Regions from separate parts of the Homo sapiens genome. Here all the other regions are linked to region 1. Evidence: fine-mapped expression QTL. A gene starts in region 1. Each other region holds a variant in brackets. All regions are shown on one strand. Distances are from middle to middle.

Region 1 (5,146 bases):
ATGCAATCCAGCAATATTCATGTGTCTTAACAATGTTTATACTGCACGATCCAGCAATTTAAGGAGCTATCCTAAGAATACAACTCAAAATACAGATAAACTTATTTTATGGGCAAAGATATTTAAGGCCCTGTGATTTATATCAGTGAAAAACTAGAAATAAACTAAATGACTGTCAATTAAGGAACAGTTAATAAATTACCCATACAACGGAATTCTCTCCAAAAAATAAAAAAGGGGAAATGCTCATGATACAGCTAGGTGAAAAAACCAGGAATAAAAACAGTATATAGGGTATGATCACAACTTTAAGCCTATGGAGAACAAAGAAAAAAAATTACATGAAAATGTCAAAAAAAACCCCTCTCCTCCCCAATTATTTCCTATTTTTTAAATTTTTCCCAACTTCCTATAAGGGATGTTTTAAATTGTGATGAGAAGGGGATGATAATAAATCATTTTCTAATAAAAGGCTTGAAATTATTTATATTTAAGCAAATAAGCACTGACTCTAATCAGCTGTTTTAATAGGAGATAGTGATTTATGACCAGTAAAATCAACTCAATTATTCAACAGCAAATCATTCATATTACACAACATCTATCATTAATTTTTATTCATTTTCTTCAGATATGTAAAAGTCACTTGAGAAATTTACAACAGTTTAGGTGTGGATTTTCTCTAGTTACCACATCAAAAGTAATGTTATACTTGCATATTTTATCAAGAATATATAATATTTATTTTATTATTTTTTTTTTTTTTCCGAGTCTTACTCTATCGCCCAGGCTGGAGTGCAGTAGCGCCATCTCGGCTCACTGCAACCTCAGCCTCCCGGGTTCAAGCGATTCTCGTGCCTCAGCCTCCCAAGTAGCTGAAATTACAGGCGCCCGCCACCATGCCCGGCTAGAGACGAGGTTTCACCATGATGGCCAGGCTGGTCTCAAACTCCTGACCTCAAGTAATCTGCCAGCCTTGGCCCCCAAAGTGCCGGGATTATTATAGGCGTGAGCCACGGCGCCCAGCACGTAATTTTTAAGAGCCGATATCATAAAAGCATATATAGAAATAAACCAAGATATCTAAATAGCACTTCAAATGAAATTTCACTGAAATCTTGGATACCTTTTCTCTAATATGTCTAAGTCCCACTTCAAATGTGCAGCAACTTTAAGAGCAAGTAGTTTTAAAATACGATTTCTCTTGTTATCAGGCGGAGGTTGAACTTGGTTTTGTTCATTAACTGAAGGTTTGGAAGCCTGTTCCAAAAACTGAACTATAAGTTGAACTGGTGCAGGATCTAGGGTTTAAAAGAAAATAAATTCTTAAATTTAAGTTTTAATTATGTAGATACAAAAGGATTCACTATTGGTTTGGTTTTTTTGGGGGGGTGGGTGGGGGGGGGGGGAGTTTGGGTTTTTTTTTTGCCACAAAAGGAATCCAAACAGCTGCGCTGTTAAAATGACTAAGGAATACGTATGTAAGAAGTGTGCCTGGGGGTTAAAGGAGATGCGGAAGAGTGGTAAGGAGGAAGGGTAACAGATTAGAGTGGAAGAAAGCAAAAAAAAGCACCTTACGGGGAAGAACATAACAGTCATAGATTTCTGGTTCTGCAAATAACCACTGCCAATTAGAAGAATGAGATATAAATATTAGAACTATTATTTTGACACTTAATTAGGGGGACCTCCATCAAGTGACCTCTCCGTACCTGCTTCTTCCAATGCAAAATAGAGGATCATTTTGAAGATTAAATTAAAGGAGGTAACGGATGTGAGCAATTAAGCACAGTGCATGGCACCCGGAAAGCACTCAACAAATTATCTTTCAAAAGGAATGAATTAAGGGCATTATACAGGTGCCAAAACTGCCTAAGTACACTAACTTCTTACACAGTGGTCTCTATCAGTGAAGGCCAGTCTGAGACTGAACAAGCCATATCTAGATTTGAATTTAGAGAAATGCTATCCGAGGAACTTACCTTTTTGTGCCAATACCTTTTTTGAGAATGCCTGGAGTTTTCCTCCTCCCCCATCAATCACACCCATTTAACTGGGCTATTAATCATTATCATCACTATACAAAGCCATCTTGCAAATGTGCAGCAGTTCCTACTTTCAAAGATTTTCTTTTAACTTACAGCCCAACTTTGGAATAAGAGTCAATAAAATTCCCTCACTGAAGAAAAAAATGTTTAAATAAAACCTAAGATAATAACTAGCGTCACGATCAACACCCAACAGCTGGTTTCTCCCCAGCTCCCTGAATTTATTCAGCTTGGGGTTGAAGGAGGCGTCTGGTCAGCCTCCCCGACCCAAGCAACCACAAGACCCGCCTCGCAGCCTCTAAAACCCCAACAGTAAAAAGGTAAATCGTAAAAAGGACCAAAGGGTTTAGGATGACAGCACCAAGCCCTCCCCTCCGGGGGTAGGAGAGCCTTTGTTTCGAGCTTTTCTTTGACCCTCCACCCGGGCATGTTTAAGGGAAGCGAGGAGCCCGGCCGGAGCTGGGCTCCTGTGCGCGCCTCCCAGGCCGCAGCTTCGGTGACCGAGAAGGCGGGGAGCGGAGGGAAGCTGGGCGGACAGCGCCGGTGGCCGGGTCCCGCTCCCCAGGTGCAGGCGCCGCGCTCACCCGGGCAGGGCTTGCGCAGATGTTTCTCCAACAGTGACTCCTCCAGCAGAAACTCAAACCAGCAGGTCTGCGGCGGGGTGCAGGGCCGGCTGGAGGTGGCCGCCTCCCGGTCCGCCGCCTCCGCGCTCATCCTGCCCCCGCCGCCGCTACCACCAGGGCCGCTTCCCGGCTCCAACCTGACACTTGGATGCGGGCCGGTGCCTGGGGTATGCGGAACCCGGTGGGAGAGAGGCCACCCTCCGAACGTCCCGGAAACTCACACAATCCAAAATGGCGGCGCGGGCCAGCCGGAGCTGCGGTCCTGGATCCGCCTCCCCGCGCCACCGCCGCGCCTTCGGACCAATCGTTGTTCGGGTTGGAAGGAAAGGGGCGTGACTAACCTTCGAACCACGCCTCCTCCCGGTTGCCATAGGAGACGGCGCCGCATGAAGCCGGGTCGCGGGTGGGTTTTCCGTGTTCCCTGACAGTTCTCCAGCGAGAAAATGAGACAACCTCATCTAGGGTTGCAACGGGCCTCAATATTTTCGTAAAGGCGAAGCGAAGGGTTCTAGTTGTGACCCAAGCAAAGTTTATCTCCTGTGCTTTCAATTTCCCCGTTCCCATTTCTGAGATTTCCTCGCACCTGGGTCCTCTCCTCAGATGCTCCCGCCGTCCTGCCGAGAACACCAGCTTCCCACTCGCTTCCTGGACGGATGGCAGCATACGGTGAGCAGCCCTTGCTGCTAGCTCCCGATACTTAGAGCCTAGTTGATCCTTTCGATATCCCCGCTAGAGGCGCTGTTAACCCTATACATTTACCTCCGTTCTGTGATGTTCTTGTATTTTTCATTAACGATTAAAACTGAAAAAAGATGCATTCATAGATCGTGAATACAAGGCCAGCCTGACCAATATGATGAAACCCCGTCTCTACTAAAAATACAAAAATTAGCCGGGCTTGGTGGCGGACGCCTGTAATCCCAGCTGCTCAGGAGGCTGTGGCAGGAGAATCGCTTGAACCCGCGAGGCGGAGGTTGCAGTGAACCGAGATCGCTCCATTGCACTCCAGCCTGGGCAACAGAGCGAAACTCTGTCTCAAAAAAAAATTTTTTTTAAGTAGCCGGGTATGGTGACACACACCTGTGGTCCCAGCTACTCAGGAAGCTGAGGCGGGAGGATCACCTAAGCCTAAGAGATTGAGGTTGCAGTGAGCTGTGATTGTGCCGCTACACTCCAGCCTGGGCAACAGAGTGAGACCCTGTCTCACAACGAGAAAAAAAAAAAGAAAGAAAAAAAAGGAAATCAGTACAGATTAACTTGACATTTTGACATTTGTATTACATATGTAAAAATAAGTTTTAATTAAGGAAGAGTTCATTATTCCACTACCATCTAATACAATAACAACATTATATATTTCAAGTCCCAAGGTGTTTTATTTAGACTCAAAAATGTCTTGCCATAAAAGTGTTACAGCACTGAACTCCCCTTTTCAGAGTGGGTAATTGAATACTTGAAGGTTGACAGAGATCTTGAAGTTTATTAAACTTAGAGACCATCTCTTAGAGGGAGTCATAACTTAAGACTTCATCAACATTGGAGGAGTCTAATGAACTCAAGCTTCCAGCCAGGGACTCTTGTCCCTCTAATGCAGGGCAGGTGACCCCAAATTGGAACTTCACCCCAGAGAGTTCTTTGCTTTGTCCAGGAAAGAATTCAAGTGTGAACCAGTGGTAGAAGAGAACAGCTTTACTGAAGTGGCAGTGTTACAGCTCTGTGACTGCCCCTGCAGAGCAGGGCTAACCCACAGGCAGTGCGCTGAGAATACCAGCTCAGGGAGGTTCTGCAGGCATATTTACACCCACTTTTAATTGCATGCAGATTAAGGGGAAGTTTATGCAGAAATTTCTAGGAAAAAGGTAGTAACTTCTGGGTCATCGGGTCATTACCATAGAATGGGGTGGCAATGCCCAGGTGTTGCCATGGCAATGGTAAACCGACATGGCACACTGTTGAGCATGTCTCATGGAAAGCTGCTTCAGCCCCATCCCTGAATTTGGTCCGGTGTCCAAACCCTGACTCCAGAGTCGCATCTCACCTCCTACCTCACTTCTGAGCAGTATGTTTGGAGGGTGTCTGTCAGAAGACCCTCAAAACTACCAGTTGCTTCTGCTTTGATGCAAGACACATATCCCAGCTGTGGCCAAGTTTGCTTGCCTGGGTCTGGAGTGACACATCTTTCCCTGTCAGTGTGTGACAATCCTGGTGTGGGTTCAGTGTTCTTGAAAGGTGTCCCAGAATGTCAAAAAGCCAAGGCTTCTTCAACTTGCTATGTCTTCGGCTCTCAGAAACAACAGAGGCAAAAGAAATATTTAAAATTTTGATTTAAAAAATAATACACTTGGAAAGATACCATCAGGAAAGTGGAATGACAACCCAAAGACTAGAAGAAAATATTTGCAAATCATGTGTCTGATAAGGGACTTACATCTAGAATATGTAAAGAACTCTTACAACCCAGCAACAACACAGTGA
Region 2 (5,000 bases), 40 kb before region 1:
GAAAGCAGTTCACTCCTACAAAACAAAAATTTTTGAATACACATTTAATATTAGAAATAAAAAATAAAATCAAGAAAGTAAATTATAGGTGAAGGTTTATTCTTAATGCTCCAATTCTGCAAGTGTGAAAAGGAATGTAATATTCTACTGTTATACTAACCTAATAACATTTCTTCCCTGTTTTAATCACATGTGAAGTCTTCAATACTATCCAACCTTAAATACTACTGATTTTGAATTCCAGTTGATTAAATGATTAATAGTTTCTTAAAATGACATATAAACAAAAGATCTTTCCAAAGGTGGCCAAGGCAGACAGGTTCATCACAGGTGAGTACTACAGAACTCGTAAGATTGTCCAACTTTATGATATACAGAATAAAAGCTGATGTTCTTGAAATCAACCTTTAATAGGTTAATAGTATAAATAGGATAAATATTAAGAACTCAAACACAACTAATAGAAACGTACCAATACATACCGATACATGATACCTAACGTAGATTCCCTCTGTTTTATTAAACTAACTCTGCCATCATTTCCTCGTTTGTGCTGACTGGACACACTACAGATTTGAACAACAACTTCCCAAAGGTCTTTGGCAGTCCGTCTACTTTCTTTAGGGCCTGGAAGTTCTTTGCATGTAGCTGCTAAAAGCTGTCCAAGCTATAACATGAAAAACAAAATACACAAAAGATAATCTGTAATGTCGTGCACATTAGTTCTATTATCAAGGCACACTGGAGGAAAGATGGAATGACTGCCCAAACATACTAAGCACAGTTATTTTATGCTGTGCATTCTGTACAACCTTTGAGGAATTTAGGGCTCATTGCGTACTGACAGATCTGAATCTGAGAAAGATCCTCTGGTTCGAGCATACGAACTTTGTTTCTGAACAGTTATAGTCTAATGAAAACGAAAATGAGACAACGCAAAGAGATAGGTGATTTATTAAGTGGAAAAAAAAACGAGTTGCTAAATACACATAGTATGATCCCACGTTACATAGGGAAAAAAAAGTGTAATGGAAGGCATACACCAAGATGTTAACTGTGGTAAAAGCCCAGGGGGTGAGGTTAAAATAGTGCTCAGATCTCTCTCTCTCCCACGTGCAAATACACACACATACAACTTTTAATCACTAAAAAAAAAAATTGTTTCAACGAAAAAAATAAGGAAAGGAATAAGGAAACTGAAGTTGGCAGAATTAAGGGATATAGATTTAAAGCAATTTTTCTCTAAGAAAATTGGTAGCAACTGGGAATGGAGCTACTGCTCTTCTGAGGAGGTAGAATTAAGGCAGGACAGGTTACACAAAGTGACTGGTATGAATAAAGGCAGCCTCAATGACCTAGGATGTAGGGAGGACCCAGAAATAAAGAGTGGGAAAGCTAAAAGCAAAAGACAGGGAAAGATTGACTTACAATAAATTCAGAATTTCTTTTATTTTCTTTTCTTTTTGGAGGCAGGGTCTTGCTCTGCACCCAGGCTGGAATGCAGTGGTATAATCTTGGCTCACTGCAACCTCCGCCTCCCAGGCTCAAACGATTTTTGTGCCTCAGCCTCCTGAGTAGCTGGAATTACAGGCATGTGTCACCATGCCCGGCTAATTTCTGTATTTTTAGTAGAGACGGGGTTTCACCATGTTGGCCAGGCTGGTCTCGAACTCCTGGCCTCAAGTGATCTATCCGCCTCGGCCTCCCAAAGTGCTGAGATTACAGGCTTGAGCCACAGCATCTGGCCAAATTCAGAACTGGGCCCCTTTACCCTTGTTCATATTAACTTTTATACTCCATCGCTCTTGTAGAGGGTGCAGTAGCAAGGATAATTTCAAATCCATCAGGAACCCCTGGTTTCTACTTAAAATGGACCTAGGGGTCCCTACTGCTTAAGGCGGCTTTTTTAAGGAGGTGGCAAGATTGTGACAAGGACAAAAATTGGTGGTTTTTCTCTACATTTTTTTGTTATGAAAAATTTCAAACAGAAAAATAAAAAAAAAAGTTCAATAAATACCTGACACATTGTGACTATTCTGCCATGTTTGCTTTATATATCTACATAAATTTTTTTGTTAAACCATATTAAACTAAGTTAGACACAATATTTCATCCCTAAATACTTCCACATACATCTTCTAAGGACGAGGACATTCTTCTCCATAACCACAACTCTGTGATCATGCCTAAGAAAATTAACAAGAGTACTGTGGCTTTCCGAAGCTCGTGAGAATAACATAAAAACCCTGCCTATACTAGGTGAATAGACATGGACCAATGGCCTAGCAGGATATTTCATCCTGCAAGCTTACCTAAAATACTCTTCTCTGACAAATGGAATCACAATACATGCAGCTATTCACTGCAGTGTAATGCCAGGGCTACTGTAGCTCTTAGCTCAAATTCATCTTCTGTTGTCAGGGATCATATGCTTTAAGGTCACTGAATTTATTACATAAATTTAATTTAAAAAATTTTCAAAGTCTAAGGCCTCAAATCAATTGAATTCCACAAACATTCTTGAGCACCTACTATGTGTGGTGGGCATCATGGAAAGCACAACATAAAAATTAACTGCCCTGAAGCAGTTCATTGTCTTATAGAGAAGACAAGTGGATATATAACTTACTATTCAGCATAAACACAACAAAAGAAATAAGTCAACAGTACAACAGTAGCAGGATCAGTACAACAGTACAAAGGAAGCAGGAAGAGGAAGTGATT[T/C]ACTCATTTACAGAGAAAAGAATATGGGAAAGCATCAGAGAAATCACACAAACACGCAAAGCTGGAAAGGACATCCTGGCTAATGTGACAAACAGCGTGTGCACAGGTGCAGAATGGAAACATGGCGTGGGCATGCTGGTGCTGCCAGCACAGGGCTGGAACGCCAAGGGGCAGGGGAACTGCACCTGGAGGAGGAGAAGCATGCACACCTTAAGAAGCCTGGTAGGCCACATGAACAACCTAAGGTTTTAGCCTATACTAGCACCACTGTGGCTGCCAACCCCCCACTACTACCTAGGTTCTTATCATCCAAGTGCCTATAACCTGTGCCCTTTCCATTATGTGACACTGCCACCCACTCTGATCCAAGGGGCAGACTAGACAGTTTTATATTATTTCAAAAGGGTATATTTTAGTGACATGCTTAAGAATTTTCTGTTCCTATTTGTGATTACGTAATATATGAGTAGGAAAATATGTTCCTATGTAACAGAATAGAAAACATTAAAATCACCAAATTTCCCATTATCTAGAGATAATGGCTGTTAATATCCTTTCAGACTTTTTCCTACACGTGTGTGCGTGTGTGTGTGTGGTGCATTCCACACCAGCTTGGAAGTGTGGAAACTGATTCAGATTGTATTTTTTTCAAAACACAATCCCTCATTCTAAACTTCTTTCTCTAATTCCTTTTTCCTTGACATTAACAAGGCAGTGAGAGGCCAATTATGTATGGAAGGTGGCACACAAAACCCTAACCACCAGATGACATATGAAGAGACATCTAAGTGACAATTCTTTCGCAAAGTCACCACACATCCTTCCTCCTTTTGGACCAGATCAGGGGAACTGCAGGAAGCAGTGAGACAGCCTCTCCCAGAGTTAGGCAACCAACAAAACAATTTCCTGTGTCCTTACACATTGCAGACCCTCAAGCATTCATTACACAAACACATGCCTATCTCTCCTGGTGCACAGCTCCACAGAATTCACTGCCAGAGGTAAAGAGAAGAGTTACTATGCTGTCTTTGCACTCAGTGACAAGCTATGATTGTAAGTGTAAATGACAGTAACCTTGGAACACAACGGTTCCCTCATCTGATTTTCTTAAAGGCTAAGAAATTACTGGTGTCCATAATGAGACAAGTGCCCAATATATTAAGAACTCACATGCCAGAAAGTTCACTAAAGAGATAGAAATGATTCAGGTCGGGCACGGTGGCTTATGCCTGTAATCCCAGCACTTTGGGAGGCCCAGGCGGGGGGATCACCTGAGGTCAGGAGTTCTAGACCTGCCATGGCAAAACCCCGTCTCTATTAAAAATACAAAACAAAAAAAAACTACCCGGGTGTGGTGGTGCATGCCTGTAATGCCAGCTACTTGGGAGGCTGAGGCACAAGAATGGGTTGAAACTGGGAGGTAGAGGTTGCAATGAGCCGAGATTGTGCCAGTGCACTCCAGCCTGGGCGACAGAGGGGGACTCAGTCTCCAAAAAAAAGAAGAGATAGATATGATTCAATGTCTGAAATTTCAAAGAAAAGGGTAATTCAAGTATGGCAGTTTTCACGAGCAAGTGTAAAGATAACAAAAAGGGCCGGGCCGGGCGCGGTGGCTCACGCCTGTAATCCCAGCACTTTGGGAGGCCGAGGTGGGCGGATCACCTGAGGTCGGGAGTTCAGACCCGCCTGACTAACATGGAGAAACCCCATCTCTACTAAAAATACAAAATTAGCCAGGCGTGGTGGTGCGTGCCTGTAATCCCAGCTACTCGGGGGGCTGAGGCAGGAGAATTGCTTGAATCTGGGAGGCAGAGGTTGCGGTGAGCCGAGATCGTGCCATTGCACGCCAGCCTGGGCAACAAGAGCAAAACTCCGTCTCAAAAAAAAGGGCCGGGCTCGATGGCTCACGCCTGTAATCCCAGCACTTTGGGAGGCCAAGGCGGGCAGATCACGAGGTCAGGAGATTGAGACCATCCTGGCTAACACGGTGAAACCCCGTCACCACTAAAAATACAAAAAATTAGCCGGGCATGGCAGTGGGCGCCTGTAGTCCCAGCTACTCGGGAGGCTGAGGCAGGAGAATGGCGTGAACCCGGGAGGCGGAGCTGGCAGTGAGCCGAGATCGCGCCACTGCACTCCAGCCTGGGCGACAGAGCGAGACTCCGTCTCAAAAAAAAAAAAAAAAAAAAAAATTACAAAAAGGGGGGAAAAACTGAAGAAATCAATAAACTCAATAAATCCTGAAAGGGTTAAAATGAAATGAGCTCAGTTTTTAA
Region 3 (5,153 bases), 110 kb before region 1:
TACTAGGGAGGCTGAGGCAGGAGAATTGCTTGAACCCGGGAGGCAGAGGTTGCAGTGAGCTGAGATCACGCCATTGCACTCCAGCCTGGGTGACAAAGCAAGGCTCTGTCTCAAAAAAAAAAAAAATAGAATTTATAATTAATAGTCACTTTAAACTTACTGGCATTTATATGTTTACTTTGCAGTGTTGTGTGTGTGTGTAGTCAGCAGCTTTGCAAAAGAATTTACTACAGAAACAGTACAAATGCAATGTAAAAAAATTAGAAAATACAAATATGCAAAAATTGGAAATGACATTTTCATGACCCAGAGATGAATACTTTTAACATCCTAGAGTATATCCTTCCAGATTGTGTTTTTTTTTTTCTGTGCCTGTACGTACACATAAACTTTTAACCTAAATGGCAACATGCCATATATACTTCTTTTTTTTTTTTTGAGACAGAGTTTCACTCTTGTTGCCCAGGCTGGAGTACAATGTTGCAATCTTGGCTCACTGCAACCTCTGCCTCCCGGGTTCAAGCAATTCTCCTGCCTCAGCCTCCCAAGTAGCTGGGATTACAGGCATGTGCCACCGCCACTACGCCCAGCTAATTTTTGCATTTTTAGTAGAGACGGGGCTTCACCATGTTGGCCAGGCTGGTCTTGAACTCCTGACCTCGTGATCCTCCCCCCCCCCCCACAAAGTGCTGGGATTACAGGCATGAGCCACCATGCCCAGATGTATAGTTGGTTTTTTTGGGGGTTTTTTTTGAGAGAGTCTTGCTCTGTCACCCAGGCTGGAGTGCAGTGGCGCGATCTCAGCTCACTGCAACCTCTGCCTCCCAGATTCAAGCAATTCTCATGCCTCAGCCTCCCGATTAGCTGGGACTACAGGCGTGCACTACCACACCTGGCTAATTGTTGTGTTTTTAGTAGAGACAGGGTTTCACCATGTTGATTAAGCTGGTCTCAAACTCCTGACTTCAGGTGAGCCACCTGCCTTGGCCTTCCAAAGTGCTGGGATTACAGGTATGAGCCACTGTGCCCGGCCCAGATATACTATTTTATAAACTACTTATTTAGGCAATGATCTCCACCATTTTGTTTCAGTAGATTTCTTCTTCTTTCTTCCTTCTTCTTCCTTCCTTCTTTTTCAAGGTTGTTATGGTTTTCTAGTTTTGGTACAGTGAGAATGTTGTTTTTATATCTTGTTTGTTTTTGCATTCATATATGATAGTTATATAGGGATAGTAAAACAAATACATACTTTTCCATATATAAAGGGTCAAAGGAAGGCACTGAATTTTATTTATGTATTTTAACACGGAGTCTCACTGTTGCCCAGGCTGGATTGCAGCGGCGCAATCTCGGCTCACTGCAACCTCCGCACTGGGTTCAAGTGATTCTCCTGCCTTATCCTGCCGATTAACTGGGATTACTGGCACATGCCACCATCTCCAGCTAATTTTTTGTATTTTAAGTAAAGATGGGGTTTCACCATATTGGCCAGGCTGGTCTCAAACTCCTGACCTCAAGTGATCCGCCCACCTTGACCTCCCAAAGTTCTGGGATTACAGTCATGAGCCATTGTGCTCGGCCAGAATGCACTGAATTTTATGTGAATCCTTTTTGTACACAGGAAACTCCTGTAAATTATTAGTTTTAAAATAGTAACTATAATTTTTTTAACATCCTTATTTTGGGATTTGAAATTCTTTTTTTTTTATTTTTGAGACGGAGTCTCGCTCCTTCGCCCAGGCTGGAGTGCAGTGGCGCTATCTCGGCTCACTGCAAGCTCCGCCTCCTGGGTTCATGCCGTTCTCCTGCCTCAGCCTCCCGAGTAGCTGGGACTACAGGCGCCCGCCACCGCACCCAGCTAATTTTTTGTATTTTTAGTAGAGACGGGGTTTCACTGTTTTAGCCAGGATGGTCTTGATCTCCTGACCTCACGATCCGCCCGCCTCAGCCTCCCAAAGTGCTGGGATTACAGGCGTGAGCCACCGTGCCCGGCAGGGATTTGAAATTCTTATAAGGAAGTCTTGCTAAATCAAGGTGGAAATCAGGTGTTACCAAAATTAGGCTAGCTTTGTAGTAAATATCTGTTTTCTTAGCAGGAAATGAATCATATGTCTTTCAGAAGTCAGATTGCTTCCATTGTGTCTATCATTGGGGATATTACCATAAAGCACAGAAAATTGAGGTGCTTTGTAATTACAGTGGGCTTCAGGGTATACATTTCATTGCATTTTAGCCTTTATAAGTATTGTTTTTGAAGGTTTTACATGTTATCTTAAGCACATGTACGTGCCTTTAATGGCACATAGTAAACCAGTTTTAATAAAAGTTGACCACGTCCTAATAGTAAAGTTACAATAGCATTTTAAATCTTACTAGTGATTTAATAGTTCACCATTTAACATTTGTAGGGCCAGGAAAAGCTGCTTATAAGACTCACGGGCACAGAGTAAGTATATTCACTTTGAGACTGTGTGATATATGTATGCATAGGGAGGCAAAGGACCCAAATGCTGACCTTTTAAAAATGACTTTCTTTCTTTTTTTGAGATGGAGTCTCACTCTGTCACTCAGGCTGGAGTGCAATGGTGTGATATTGGCTCACAGCAGCCTCCACCCCCCAGATTCAAGTGATTCTCTTGTTTCAGCCTCCCAAGTAGCTGGGATTACAGGCTTGCATCACCACACCTGGCTAATTTTTGTATTTTTAGTAGAGATGGGGTTTCACCATGTTGGCCAGGCTGGTCTTGAACTCTATTAAGGTGATCCACCTGCCTCAGCCTCCCAAAGTGTTGGGATTACAAGAGCGAGCCACAGCGCCTGGCCTAAAAATAATTTTCTTTATATTAACTTTTTTCTATTAGTTTCTTATTGTGGCCTCTTAAAATTCTACTTTAAAAAAATTTTATGTGTGTGTGTGTGTGTGTGTGTAATAAATATGTGTGTTTCCTCAAGTGATTTTAGGCAGAATGTGTCACTGCCCTTCCTGTGTAAAATAACTCTTAAAAATCATACAGCTCTTCATGTTACGTGTTGACATAGTTTACAGCAATCCTACTTGATTAGCTTTTTTATATGGAAAACATAATCATACTGTGTGTAGCCAATTTTAAGATTGTGTTA[T/AT]TCAAGAGTCTTATATTGCCATGTAAATACCATCTCAAAATGTGCCCTGTTGTGAGATAAAGAAAAACTTAAGAGATTTATTCTATTAAGCTATAGCTTTTTATCTAGAAAAATGGCAAATGAGTAGAATTTCCATATGCAAATTTCTATTAAATAAAGATTTAAAGCATGTTTCCTGGAACATTTTACTTATAGACAGGAAATGTCTTGTGAAGGTATTGTGAGCACACTGCTTTCTGATCAGTAAAATTTGGGAATTAAAATATTTTCCTTTTAAGATTATGGTGAGAATTAAAATATATATTTGCAAAAGAATTGGCAAATGCAGATATTCAATAAATGTTAGCTCCCCTCCCAGACAAGCTTATATAAATGTGTGTGCTCCGTAAATGAAATTCAAAGTTTAAAGTGTATTTTTAGAAAACAGTCTACTTAGTGAGCCATCTGGGGCTTATATGGCATCTTTCTAGTAACAGTTGGCTCTCCTTTCCACCACTATCAGTCAGTGGGGTCACAGAATAATAAACTTGTCTGTCAGCCATGAAACACAAGCTCTCATTCAGCCATAAACAAATTAGCGTGGCAAATTGAATTGCTAAGTAACTTTTCCAGTTTTGTTAATAACATACTCTGTTATTTAATACATCCCCACTTTTTTCTGTTTCAGAGTGGAAGCTCAAAATGAAATGGGGCAGCATATTCATTGTTATGTTGCAGCTCTTGCTGCTCATACAACTTTTCTGGAACAACCCAAGAGCTTTCGCCCTTCCCAGTGGATAAAAGAACACAGTGAAAGACAGCCTCTTAACAGAAATAGCCTTCGTCGCCAAAATCTTACCAGGGATTGCCACCCTCGGCAAGTCAAGCACAATGGCTGGGTTGTTCATCAGCCCTGCCCGCGTCAGTACAATTACTAATAGTTTCAAGTTTTGTTGGTTGGTTTCTCTTGGTTTGTGCTTACATGTATGGATGTGTGTATATGTACAGTGAAAATGTTGTCTCTTTACAACCAATTGATAACCAATCACATAGTTTTATCAGTGTATTTAGACACTATCTTGAAAATCAGATTTATATGCTGTGTATCACATAATGCCTTGCCTTTAACATTTACTTTTTTTGTACACTTTTTCAGATTATTTCTGGAAACATATCAATATAATTACAGTGTTTGGGGGTGTCTTTAAATATATTAGGTTATACATTAGTCAGCATTTTAAAGACATTTCTTCCCAAGTACGAGAATAGGCATCTTTCATTTTCATTTTATTTTGTATTACTTAATCTTTTAAGCAAGCAAAAATTTATTCTCAGGGTCAGCTGTACACTTTATTGACCAGTACTTGATAATCTCTCTGTATATGATGAATACATTTTTACACACTAACATTAGCATTAACAGGTGATAGTTGCCATGGATATAATGGAATTATGGCTGGACTTTCTTTTGAAAGAAAACTTGATGTATTCTGTGTGTATGGTTTTTCCCCAGATTAGTCATACAGTTCATTTGGAATTCAGGTACATTAAGCTTTAGTGAAGAGTGCATGCAGTAATTCCAATGTGACTGCATGACGTGGTACAGACATTACAGGTGTTGTAGACAGAGGCACTTGTCTCGTGCAGAGGGATTAAATTAGACCTGTGAGATTATATTTGGAAAAATTCATGTCTGTAACTAACCCATTAGTGCAGTATTTAATTTGTTACTATTCCTTCCCGCCAATTCTGTCCACTCCTCACCTCGCATCAGCTATAAATTTGGAAGTACTTGTCCAGGCACTCAAGTGACTTCATATTTCTCTCTGCCCATGGGAAAAGAGATAGGCTTTATATTTCCACAGAGTGAAAAATCCTCTGTCATGGAGCCTGTCCTGCCAAGTGGCAAGAGTGTGGGGACTGTCTGGTGATGATGTCTTTCATGGCATCTGAGTGAAGAGTGACAGGTTGGCTCAACTTTTTTCTTTTTTTTTTTTTAATTGCCTTGTATTGTAAGTATTCTTCCCTGCAGTCCAAGTGACTTTTCATTTTTT
Region 4 (5,177 bases), 540 kb after region 1:
ACTCAATACTACAGCTAATTTTACTACATTTTTATCACCTATGAATATACTAAAAGCCATGAATTGCACACATTAAGTGGTTGAATTGTATAGGATGTAAATTTTATGTCAATAAAACTGAAACAACAGCAAAACTTAACAACAAAAAGAAAAAAAAAAAGGAACATATTACCACCTATTATCCTGTGAGAAGAACAGAACCTGAGTCCAATCCCAGCTCTGAATCTAGATGCCCATTTTTAGGAATACAGAGAAGATGAACATGCTGAACTGTACTGTAAGTATGCACTCAGCAGTGTCCAGACTACGTATTTTTCAATACATAAAATGTAAGAAAAAAAGAGGGATAGAGGGGAAACCTATATATTAAAAAAAGCCTTAAGAGATATCAAATTTTTAAAATGACTGAGATTAAACTCTAACAGCTAAGGATGCATACTTGGGTGATAAAATATCCAAAGAAATGATTAGTGTAAAACCCAGGAGGGTTGAGACTGGGATAGTGAAAATGGAGGGGATTCTGGGTGGGTAGCAATGTTCTCTTCCAGGAGCTGAGCAGTAGTTAAATGGATGCTCTCCTAATAGTAATTCATTAAATTATATGTTTGGTTTGTGCCTCTCTTGTATCTTTATTTTACTTTACAATAAAAATGGAACAGCAATAAAAAGTTTACAAAAACATGAATCATGTAAATATTATTTTGTGTAGAACATGCAGTTGGAAGGAAATGTAGTCATATACCACAGAACTGAACTACACAAAGTAAAATGTTCCAAGCATCAGAAATGAATTACCTTTTTTTTTCACTCTCAGTGGCTCAAAGTCATACTGCACTTTGGCTTCATTCTGAATTTGGTTGTGGTTTCCTTATCTTTGTATGCTTCTCCCCAAATAGGGTTTCTATTTGTCTTTTTTTCTTTTTACTGTGTACAAAAGAAGCACATAACTTCATATTATCACCAAGACCATCCAGCTGCTTAATTTATTAATGTGATTTCACTTCTTGAAGACTTATTCTCTGAGTTCTTTGATTTATTGTTTTAATTTAGATTGGTTACTTCCTAAGCGCTGTACAACTGTTATCCCAGGCTTTTAAAAAAAATTTCTTTTCTTTTTTTTTACATTGAGCTACTTGATTGGGTCCCCTGTGTATTAGAGTCCATGCTTTTCTTTTTTCTTGGATTCCACGTTTTCTTTCGACTTGCTGGATACTTTTAAAGGAATTTATTTTCCAAAAAGATTATGTGAGAGGTCATTTTTTTGAGCTCTTGTGAGACAATTTCATCATTTTCACCTCATATGTCATTGAGATTTTGGCTATTTACAGAATATTAGGTTCAAAATAAATTTTCTCTTAGAACTTTGAGAGTATTTTTCAACATCCGTTGTTGCTTATTCATGTGAGACAATCTAATTTTTATTCTTTTATAGTTAATCTTCATTTTTTAAAATCTAAGGACAAATAGATCTTCCCTTTGTCTGTGGTATTCAGAAGTTTCAATGATGTATCCTTGAATGGGTCTTTTTTATTTCTCTGATCTGTACTTGCTAAGCCTTTGTAATCTATAAAGCACATATCTTTCTTTAGCTCTGGGAAATTTTCTTCTGTTATTTATTTCCTATTTTTCTCCCTTGTATTTTCTCTTTCTGAAATTCATATGGGGGTTACTACTGGATAAGTCCTCTATATGACTCTTAACATTTTGCTTTTATTTTTCATTTCTTTGGCTTTTGCTATATATTCTAGGGGATCTCCTTGACTTTTTTTGGTTGCTTTCTAATAATTTAAAAATATTTGGTTATCATATTTTTTATTGTTCCTTTTTTTACCTACTGTAGGTTTTTTAGGCATAATTGTCTCAAATCTCTTTAAGTATACTAATTAGAATTATTTTTAAGTTGTCTTCTCATCACTTAATTAGCTGTTTCCTTTGACTACAGATATTTAGTTTGATTATCTAGGCCTCTCTATTTTGTGCCATTGGTTTCCACTATTGCATGGGTCTGTGGCATCTTTGAATGGAAGCTCTCATAGTTAGCCCAGAACTA[G/C]TGGGTGTGGACTGGCAGCCTGTGCTATAGGGTAGATGGCAAGGAAGGAAATGCTATACAATAAGGGCTCTACTCTGGGTTTACGTATCAGTTATGGTTTTTTGGATGCAAGGGAAACTTACGGGGAAGATATGGGGTAGTATACAAAGTCCGGGGTGAAGTAGAAGAACCAGGTTCAGGGCAGAATAGGAGCCAGGGTCCACAGAAATCAGAACATCTCTGGGGATTTACCTCTAGGCAACATCTCCATGAAGGTGAAACATCTCTATTGGCAGGTGAAAAAACTTGAGCTGTTTTCAGCGTTTGTGTCAGTCTCTTTTGAGAGATGATCCGATTGGCCTCTCTTGGGTCAGGGAGCTTCCCCTTAGCCAAGAGAGGAAGGCAACTTGGCTCACAGTTTCTTGATTGACCAAACTGTAGGCAGTGCAAGATAAGTGGTTCCCCAAAGCAAACGTGGAGTTCTAAAAGAAAGGGAGATGCAAGGCAGGCCAAACGATGGGTGCCCATTGCCAGGGCCAGCACATGAACCAGCAGATGTGGTCCTCCCCAAGGACAGTTTTTACTCTCTCTAGCAAGCATAGTTTTGGTTTCTTCCCAGGTGTCATCCTCCAGCTGACAGTTCTCCAAATATAAAAGTGGAGATGCAGCCTGACTTGCCTCTCTGTTCCAGCAGCAGGCCTTCCATTCATCCTCCTGATTTCTGCTCCTCTTCCCACTCCCACTCTATTCCTGCTGACTTGGAACTCAGAGCCCTCAAAATGGCTCCAGCCTTAGCTACAGCTTTCTGTGGTGTACATTCTGAGCTGTTGCTGCTTCCTCTCTGTTTTATCTGCCAGTGCAATCTCATCTTCTCTATTCCCAGAAATCTGCCAAATTTCTGACTTGCTGAAAGCTTCTTTTATGTGATTTATTCTTTTCTTTACTGGCATGTCAATGTGATTTTAGGAAGGAGGGGAGGTCGAGGCCTGTTGACTCTGCCATCTTGGACCAGAGGCCTCTGTAGATAGATTAATCTCTTGGTTTCTTTGAATGTTTCCATGGATGGTTGATTTTAAGGGCTTCTTTGTTCTGGGCAAATAGTCCAGATTTGTTGAAAGTTAGATGGGAAGCCCCTGGCATATCTAGCTTTTTCTTGCTCAAGATGGAAGGAAGACTTACTGTTTATTTAAAACTAAGCTTAGGTTTTATCAGTGGGCACTTCATAGATCCAGGCACAAGGCGCCAAAGTATCTCAGATATCCTCTGCCAACTGGACTGAGCTCACTGCTGACAGACCTCGCCTCATTCATCTTCTCCCTTGACTTTTGTGCTTGTCTGGATGCTAAATTTTATGGAAAACTCCCTTCCCTCAAAAGAAACTAAAATGAAGATGTGTTCAATTTTCAAAGGCTTAAGTTCCCTCTATTCTGCTAATCTACCAGCAGAATAAGATTTTATCTTTAGGGAAGGGAGGGAGCTTGGAACAGTGTTTTAAAAGTAAAAACCAGAAGACCTAAGGTTTTAGCCCTTTCCTTGTCACTTACCTTTGAAAGGTCTCTGAGCCTTGGTTTCACCATGTGATAAATGGGGCTAGGAAGACTGCCTCGTTTTCCTCACCTGATGTCATAAAGATAATATTTTAAAAAGCACTTTGCAAACTATATATAAATGAAAGCTATTGTTCAGAGGGGTCAGCACTATTGAAGCAACCCTTACAATTGCCTATGGGCTCTAAGAAAAGTGCCTATGGGCTCTAGAAAAGTCTTTGCTGGGGAGGGCTCAGAAGAATCATCTTAGAGAATATCTAAATGGTTGTGAAGGGACTATTAATAGAAATCTAAATTTTAAGGACAATTCTGGTGAGAATTCAGAAGGAAATGAGGAACATGTTATTGGAAACTGGAGGAAAGTGGATCCTCTTACACTTAGTAGAATTATGACTTGCACTTATGTGGAAAGCAAAATTCGTAAATGATGAGCTTGGATATCAAGGTGAGGAGGTTTCCAGGCAAAGTGTTAAAGGTATGGCCTGGATCTTCTTGCTGCTCACAGTCAAATGCAAGAGGAGCAAGGTAACTCTTAAAAAAAAAAGAAGATCCAAGACTTCATGTTTTGGAAAATGCTTAGCTTATTCAGATTGCAAAATATGCTAAAATGGAAAGATCTCCTGTTAGGAAAGCATCCTCTTAAAAAAAAAAAAAAGGCTGAGGGTGTGGCTGTACGATCGATACAGGTAGGAGGCAGAGAAATTCTAGGCAGACACGGGTGGGTCCCTGGTGAAACCCCACCTTCAAGCCAAAGTAGCCTGAAACCCATGGCCCAAAGTAAGAACTTCTATTCCTGTTTGCCCGCTCTCTCTTGATTGGTTCTATCTGAATAATGTCTTTTTACCAGTCAAATGTCTTTTCCAAAACTACCTAAGGCCTGCCCTTCCCCCATCCTGTGCCTATAAAGACCCCAGACTCTGTCAGTAGTGTGGGAGACGGCTGGACTTCAGGGAAGACATGGCCAGACTATGGAAGAGACAACCAGACTTTGGGGTAAGACAGCCTGTCCATCTTGCCCCGTCTCCAGCTCCCCTCTCTGCTGAGAGCCGTTTTTAATGCATAATAAAATTATCTGCCCTTTAATTGTCTGAGCAACCTCATTATTCCTGGATGCTGGGCAAGAGCTTGGGACCCACTGAGTGTGGGTACCCGGAAAGGGCGTTACACTGGCCTTTTGCCCTCTCTGGCGGAAGGCAGCTGCCCTAAGCAACAAGGAAAAGGGCCAACTGAATTGCTAACACACCACTGTCCGCAGACAGCAAAACTAAAAGAACACTGTAACACACTCTGGGATCTTGGGGTCATGGGCACCCTCACCCAAGTGCCACTACAAGGGGTCAGCTGAACTGCTAACACACTGCTGCCTGTGGACAGCGGAACTAAAAGAGCACCGTAACACCCACCCTGGTGCTTCAGGGTCACAGGAACCCTCACCTGGGTACCACCAGGAGCCCTCCATGGAGCTTGCTTCTGCCGGCGCCTGGAGCAGCTGACCGGATCTCGCACTCGCTCACTCATGTGCTCCCTCCCACAAGGGGTTCAGCATGGCGGGCCGAGTAGACAGGACACCCCTCCTGCGAGTGGAGCGAAGGGGCCAAGAA
Region 5 (5,000 bases), 27 kb before region 1:
AAGCTTAAGCACGCGGTTAGTCCCAGAATCCCCTATCATAACTATCATGCTATACTTGTTCATCTTAAAAATTTTTGGTTTGTTCTTGATTTTTGAGATAGAGTCTCGCTCCGTCACCCAGGCTGGAGTGCAGTGGCGTGATCTCTGCTCACTGCAATCTCTGCCTCCCAGGTTCAAGTGATTCTCCTGCCTCGGCCTCTCAAGTAGCTGGAAATACAGGTGCGCGCCACCATGCCCAGCTAATTTTTATATTTTTAGTAGAGACGGGGTTTCGCTATGTTGCCTAGGTTGGTCTTGAACTCCTGGCCTCAAGTGATCCACCCATCTCAGCTCCCCAAAGTGCTGGGATTACAGGCAATGAGCCACTGCACCTGGCCTTCATCTTAAAAATTCACACTAATAAATAGCATCAATGCTAAAAAAAAGCCCAACTAATTTTTAGAGCAATTTTTTATTTTCTCTCTACTAGTATGTTTAAACCCAATTTTTAAAAATACAGGTCGGGCACAGTGGCTCATGCCTATAATCCCAGCACTTTGGGAGGCTGAGGCAGGCAGATCACCTGAGGTCAGGAGGTCAGGAGTTCGAGACCAGCCTGACCAACATGGAGAACAACATGGAGAAACCCGTATCTACTAAAAATACAAAATTCATCAGGCATGGTGGGGGCATGCCTGTAATCCCAGCTACTCGGGAGGCTGAGGAAGGAGAATTGCTTGAACCCGGGAGGCGGAGGTTGCAGTGAGCCAAGATCGCACCATTGCACTCCAGCCTGGGCAACAATAGTGAAACTCAGTCTCAAAAAAAAAAAACAAACCATACATTTCTGGCTGCCTTTTTACTACATCTTCAGCAGGGGAGGAGTAAGTATGTAGTTAGTTACGAGCATTACCATATTGCTTTAATTTCTCCTGTATCTGTCGATTACTTCCCTTGTATCTCTAAGCTACATTCCACTGAAATGGTGTTTTAAAAGCTATTTTTATTTGCACTTTCTATGCTGGAAAACTTTCTAATAGATAAACTCAGAAACAGGTAAATGTATTAGCTGGGAGTTTTTAAAGGAACATTTAAAGCCAAAAATGTTCCATAATGAAGCATTATGCTACAGAATGCATAAATAATATACCATTTACATATATTTACAACTATATTTAAAATGCAGCCAGACGTGGTGGCTCACACCTGTAATCCCAACACTTGGGGAGGCAGAGGCGGGTAGATCACTGGTGGTCAGGAGTTCGAGATCATCCTGGCCAACATGGTGAAACCCCATCTCTACTAAAAATACATAAATTAGCCGGGCATGGTGACAGGTACCTGTAATCCCAGCTACCAGGGAGGCTGAGGCAGGAGAATCACTTGAATCTGGGAGACAGAGGTTGCAGTGAACCAAGATTGCACCACTGCACTCCAGCCTGAGCGACAGAGTGAGATTCTGTCTCAAAAAACAAATGAATGAAATAAAATGCGTATATTTTGTCAACAAATGGAAAAACTCATTTTTAGATGTTACTCATTTAATGGTATCTTTTTGTTTCTGACATTTCCTATTTTCTCTGTCAATGGATGTTAAAAATGCAATTATGTTCATATGAAGGTCTTAAAACTGTTAAGTAAGAGGTCCTTATTATCAAAAAGGTCAGGGAACAGCTTTTCTATTAAATTACCTCAGAAAACAAGGGCAATTTTCTTATCTGTTCTTGACATAGGGTTTACCTTATTAGACACTGTCCAGAACTGGCGCTCTGAAGTCATACCATGTAATTCAATTAAAATTTGTCTAATCCTCCAAGGATCCACTGACAATATAAGTTGATGCTCTAACTGACCAATGTTGACACTTGCTGAAGCTAAAAAAAGATTTATATTTCAATGATTTAATTCAAAGATATACACGAGAATAACAATTTACTTAAAATTATGTATTTTGTATTATATCTATAAATTAAAAGCTGCTATCATCTTGAGAACTGATGCATTCAACATTGTATAAATTACACATTAACTTTATCCTCACACAGAAAACCTAACAAAATTTTACTATATCTACATTTAATAAATGAATGCATTTTAAAAATAAAGATAATGAAAATATAAACAAGATAAAAATCAATATTTCATGCAAAGAACTATGTGGAATATATGAAAATAATTAACTTACAGACTTATACACAACTTATACACTACTTTTGAATATAATGTGTTAACAGAAGCATATATAAAATGTTAATTTTGAGTAATAAACATTAAGCATGTGTTTTATGAGAGAAAGGGGCATGCTCTTCCCAGAGAACCAAAAATGATTACCAAAATCCCTAATTACAGCTCAGATATCAGATACGGTCTTCAATAATGCATTTCCAGCATTTCTGTGTTAACCTTACCCTTTTCCTTTACAACTGGACATTCAACCAGTTTAAATCTAGTGAAGGTCAAAGAAGCTAAAAGTTTGCTTTTGTTAAACCAATCGAATTCTCTCTCATCTATATTAAATGTTGAAGTTTATGTTTCTTATTTAAAAACAGCATTGTATTTTCTACTTATATTTGTAAGGGCAAAAATGGAAAAAAAAATCAAACAAGGCAAAAACAGCAAT[A/C]CTGCCAAGCTGTTCAGTCAGCAGATACTAGCACAGTGATATAGACTGACATGCACGAAAATCTGTCCTCTTTTTGGTCCCAGCATTTCTCACCACTCCTCTCCTGCTTTCTGTTTTTACCTCCATGAACATACTGGCAGCAGTGTTACCTTGGTCTATTTCTCCGGTGAAAATCTTTTTTTTTTTTTTTTTTTTGAGTCGGAGTCTCGCTCTGTCACCCAGGCTGGAGTGCAGTGGCGCAATCTTGGCTCACTGCAAGCTCCGCCTCCTGGGTTCACGCCATTCTCCTACCTCAGCCTCCAGAGTAGCTGGGACTACAGGCGCCCACCACCATGCCTGGCTAATTTTTTGTATTTTTAGTAGAGGCGGGGTTTCACCGTGTTAGCCAGGATGGTCTCTATCTGCTGACCTCGTGATCCGCCCGTCTTGGCCTCCCAAAGTGCTGGGATTACAGGCGTGAGCCACCACGCCCAGCCTTCCCCAGCTAAAATCTTTTATGTATCTAGGACTGAATCTGTACTAATCATTGGCTTGGCAGAGCTCCAGAGCATAACTGCTTATACAGAAATCTGATACGGAAGACAGGTGAATTTCTATTAATTACCAACACAAGTGTTAATTAAAACAAGAGAGAATCCTCAAATATATTTCAAGGTTAATTTGAATAGAGGGGCAAAACATGCCAACATTTTGGCTGGCCGACTAGAGAGCTAACCTGGGATATCATAAAATGAAGTTACAGGTTTAATGCACAGATTTACTCTAGGGGATCTCTTCCTCATCTGATCAACAAGTAGCTTTCGTTCTTCATCTTTCAACAATGTAATGAAAAGCTCATGTGAAGAAATCATGAAAACATACTGCAGATCTTCCAACCCCAGACACACATTCCTAGATCAGTAAGAAATATTGTAAAACAAAAAAGTGTATAATTTAGTTTGAGAAAAACAATCATATCAACCAATTTTAATAAGCCATTTAAAAAGCCACCATTACATAAACTGTATAATGATATTTTAAAATAGATTTTAAAATTTCCCTTTGGTCCTTATTTAAAATTGTGATGTCAATGCCACAATATTAAAAAAAGGTAACTATATAATCCTAATGTCTCACGTGGCTATACAAATTTGAACTTAATGGGTTCTCAAACACCAGTTACTGCCTGGTTAAAAGATACCCAAGACAAAAACAAAAGATAATACAGATATTTTGTTCACAGGACTAAGTTCAAAGTTAAAAAAAAAAAGAAAAAAGAAAAGAAAGGTACTTACTTTAGAAAAGCAGCCATGTTTCCTTTCAAAGACTCTGAAGCTTTTTCTAAATTTACTGATCTTGAACATACCTAGGAATTTGAGTAATTTTCATTTGAATATGGGTACTTATAAAAATGTAAATTATAATTTGAAAAGGCTGGATTTAAAAACAACTGAATTTTCCTTTTTCAACAATGTACCAATCACAGATTTAGTTAAGTAACTTAACAGAAGAGACCAGACCAAGGAATAACAATCCATCACAAAGAGGGAATGGAATGTGACCATTTTAATAAGTGCAGGTGTATACATGTAGCAAAGAATAACCTAGTTACCATGCTATACAGTTCTCACAGAATTTATCAACTATGTTGCCAAATTATATTAAGTGATAAACCATAGAAATCAGTAGCTCCTGTCAGAAAAGAGTTAAAAAAATAAAAAATTTTTAAAACCAAAAAGAAAATAATTGAAAAGAGTAAGTGATTTATCATGAATATAGAACTAATGGTTCTATATTCATGAGCTATTCATGAATAGTTAAAAAGGTAACCAAGGTTTAAAAAGTAAACAATGCAAACAAAGAATAGAAACTAGTTATGGTCATATTAGTTATCTACAAATAATATTTTCATATTATGTTGAATTTATTCATTAGATTAGGATTCCTCCTAATATATTATTTATAAGAAGCCAAAATAAAATATAACTAGTGTAAAAGTCCATAATCTCAAGAAATTGCTAAATATTTTTTACGTTGACACACACACAAAATAGAATGTTCATAGTAGTATTAATCATAGTAGCCAAAAAGTATAAGTAACCTGCAGTCTACCAACTGATGAATAAACACACAAAATACAGTATATATCCATTCAATTAAGTATTATTCAGCCATAAAAAGTGAAGTACTGATACATGCTACAATATTGAAAACGTGCTAAGAAGCCAGTTACAAAAGATCATCTATTTCATAGTTCCATTTACATAAAATATCCAGAACAGATAAATCTATAGAGAAATTAGATTAGTAGTTGCCTCAGGTGGTGCGAGATTGAGGGAAAATGAAGAGTGACAGGTAATGAATAAGAGATTATCTTTTTGGAGTGAAAAAAGGAAGTGAAGTGATAGCTGCACAACTCTAG

Evidence for each region.
Region 2: its variant is fine-mapped to the expression of INTS8 in whole blood (INTERVAL, PIP above 0.99).
Region 3: its variant is fine-mapped to the expression of INTS8 in whole blood (INTERVAL, PIP above 0.99).
Region 4: its variant is fine-mapped to the expression of INTS8 in monocytes after Pam3CSK4 (Quach 2016, PIP 0.95).
Region 5: its variant is fine-mapped to the expression of INTS8 in whole blood (TOPMed, PIP above 0.99).

Annotation. Positions count from the first base shown.
Region 1 is chr8:94,821,048-94,826,193 of GRCh38, reverse strand. INTS8 (integrator complex subunit 8) reads right to left here and starts at 2,907. Exons shown (of 27, transcript NM_017864.4): 1 at 2,633-2,907; 2 at 1,127-1,301. The coding sequence starts at 2,762. RefSeq lists an enhancer at 2,261-2,320 and a silencer at 2,481-2,870.
Region 2 is chr8:94,861,173-94,866,172 of GRCh38, reverse strand. It overlaps INTS8 (integrator complex subunit 8), which reads right to left. Exons shown (of 27, transcript NM_017864.4): 17 at 483-667; 18 at 1-15. Among named protein-coding and RNA genes, the nearest start is that of CCNE2, 32 kb to the left of the region's middle. The variant T/C (reference allele first, on the strand shown) is at 2,725.
Region 3 is chr8:94,929,363-94,934,515 of GRCh38, reverse strand. TP53INP1 (tumor protein p53 inducible nuclear protein 1) reads left to right here. Exons shown (of 4, transcript NM_033285.4): 4 at 3,788-5,153. The coding sequence ends at 4,037. It also overlaps a transcript of NDUFAF6 not described here. Among named protein-coding and RNA genes, the nearest start is that of TP53INP1, 17 kb to the left of the region's middle. The variant T/AT (reference allele first, on the strand shown) is at 3,121.
Region 4 is chr8:94,278,142-94,283,318 of GRCh38, reverse strand. No RefSeq gene overlaps it. Among named protein-coding and RNA genes, the nearest start is that of GEM, 18 kb to the right of the region's middle. The variant G/C (reference allele first, on the strand shown) is at 2,051.
Region 5 is chr8:94,848,406-94,853,405 of GRCh38, reverse strand. INTS8 (integrator complex subunit 8) reads right to left here. Exons shown (of 27, transcript NM_017864.4): 11 at 3,874-3,944; 12 at 3,315-3,490; 13 at 1,720-1,853. Among named protein-coding and RNA genes, the nearest start is that of INTS8, 28 kb to the right of the region's middle. The variant A/C (reference allele first, on the strand shown) is at 2,600.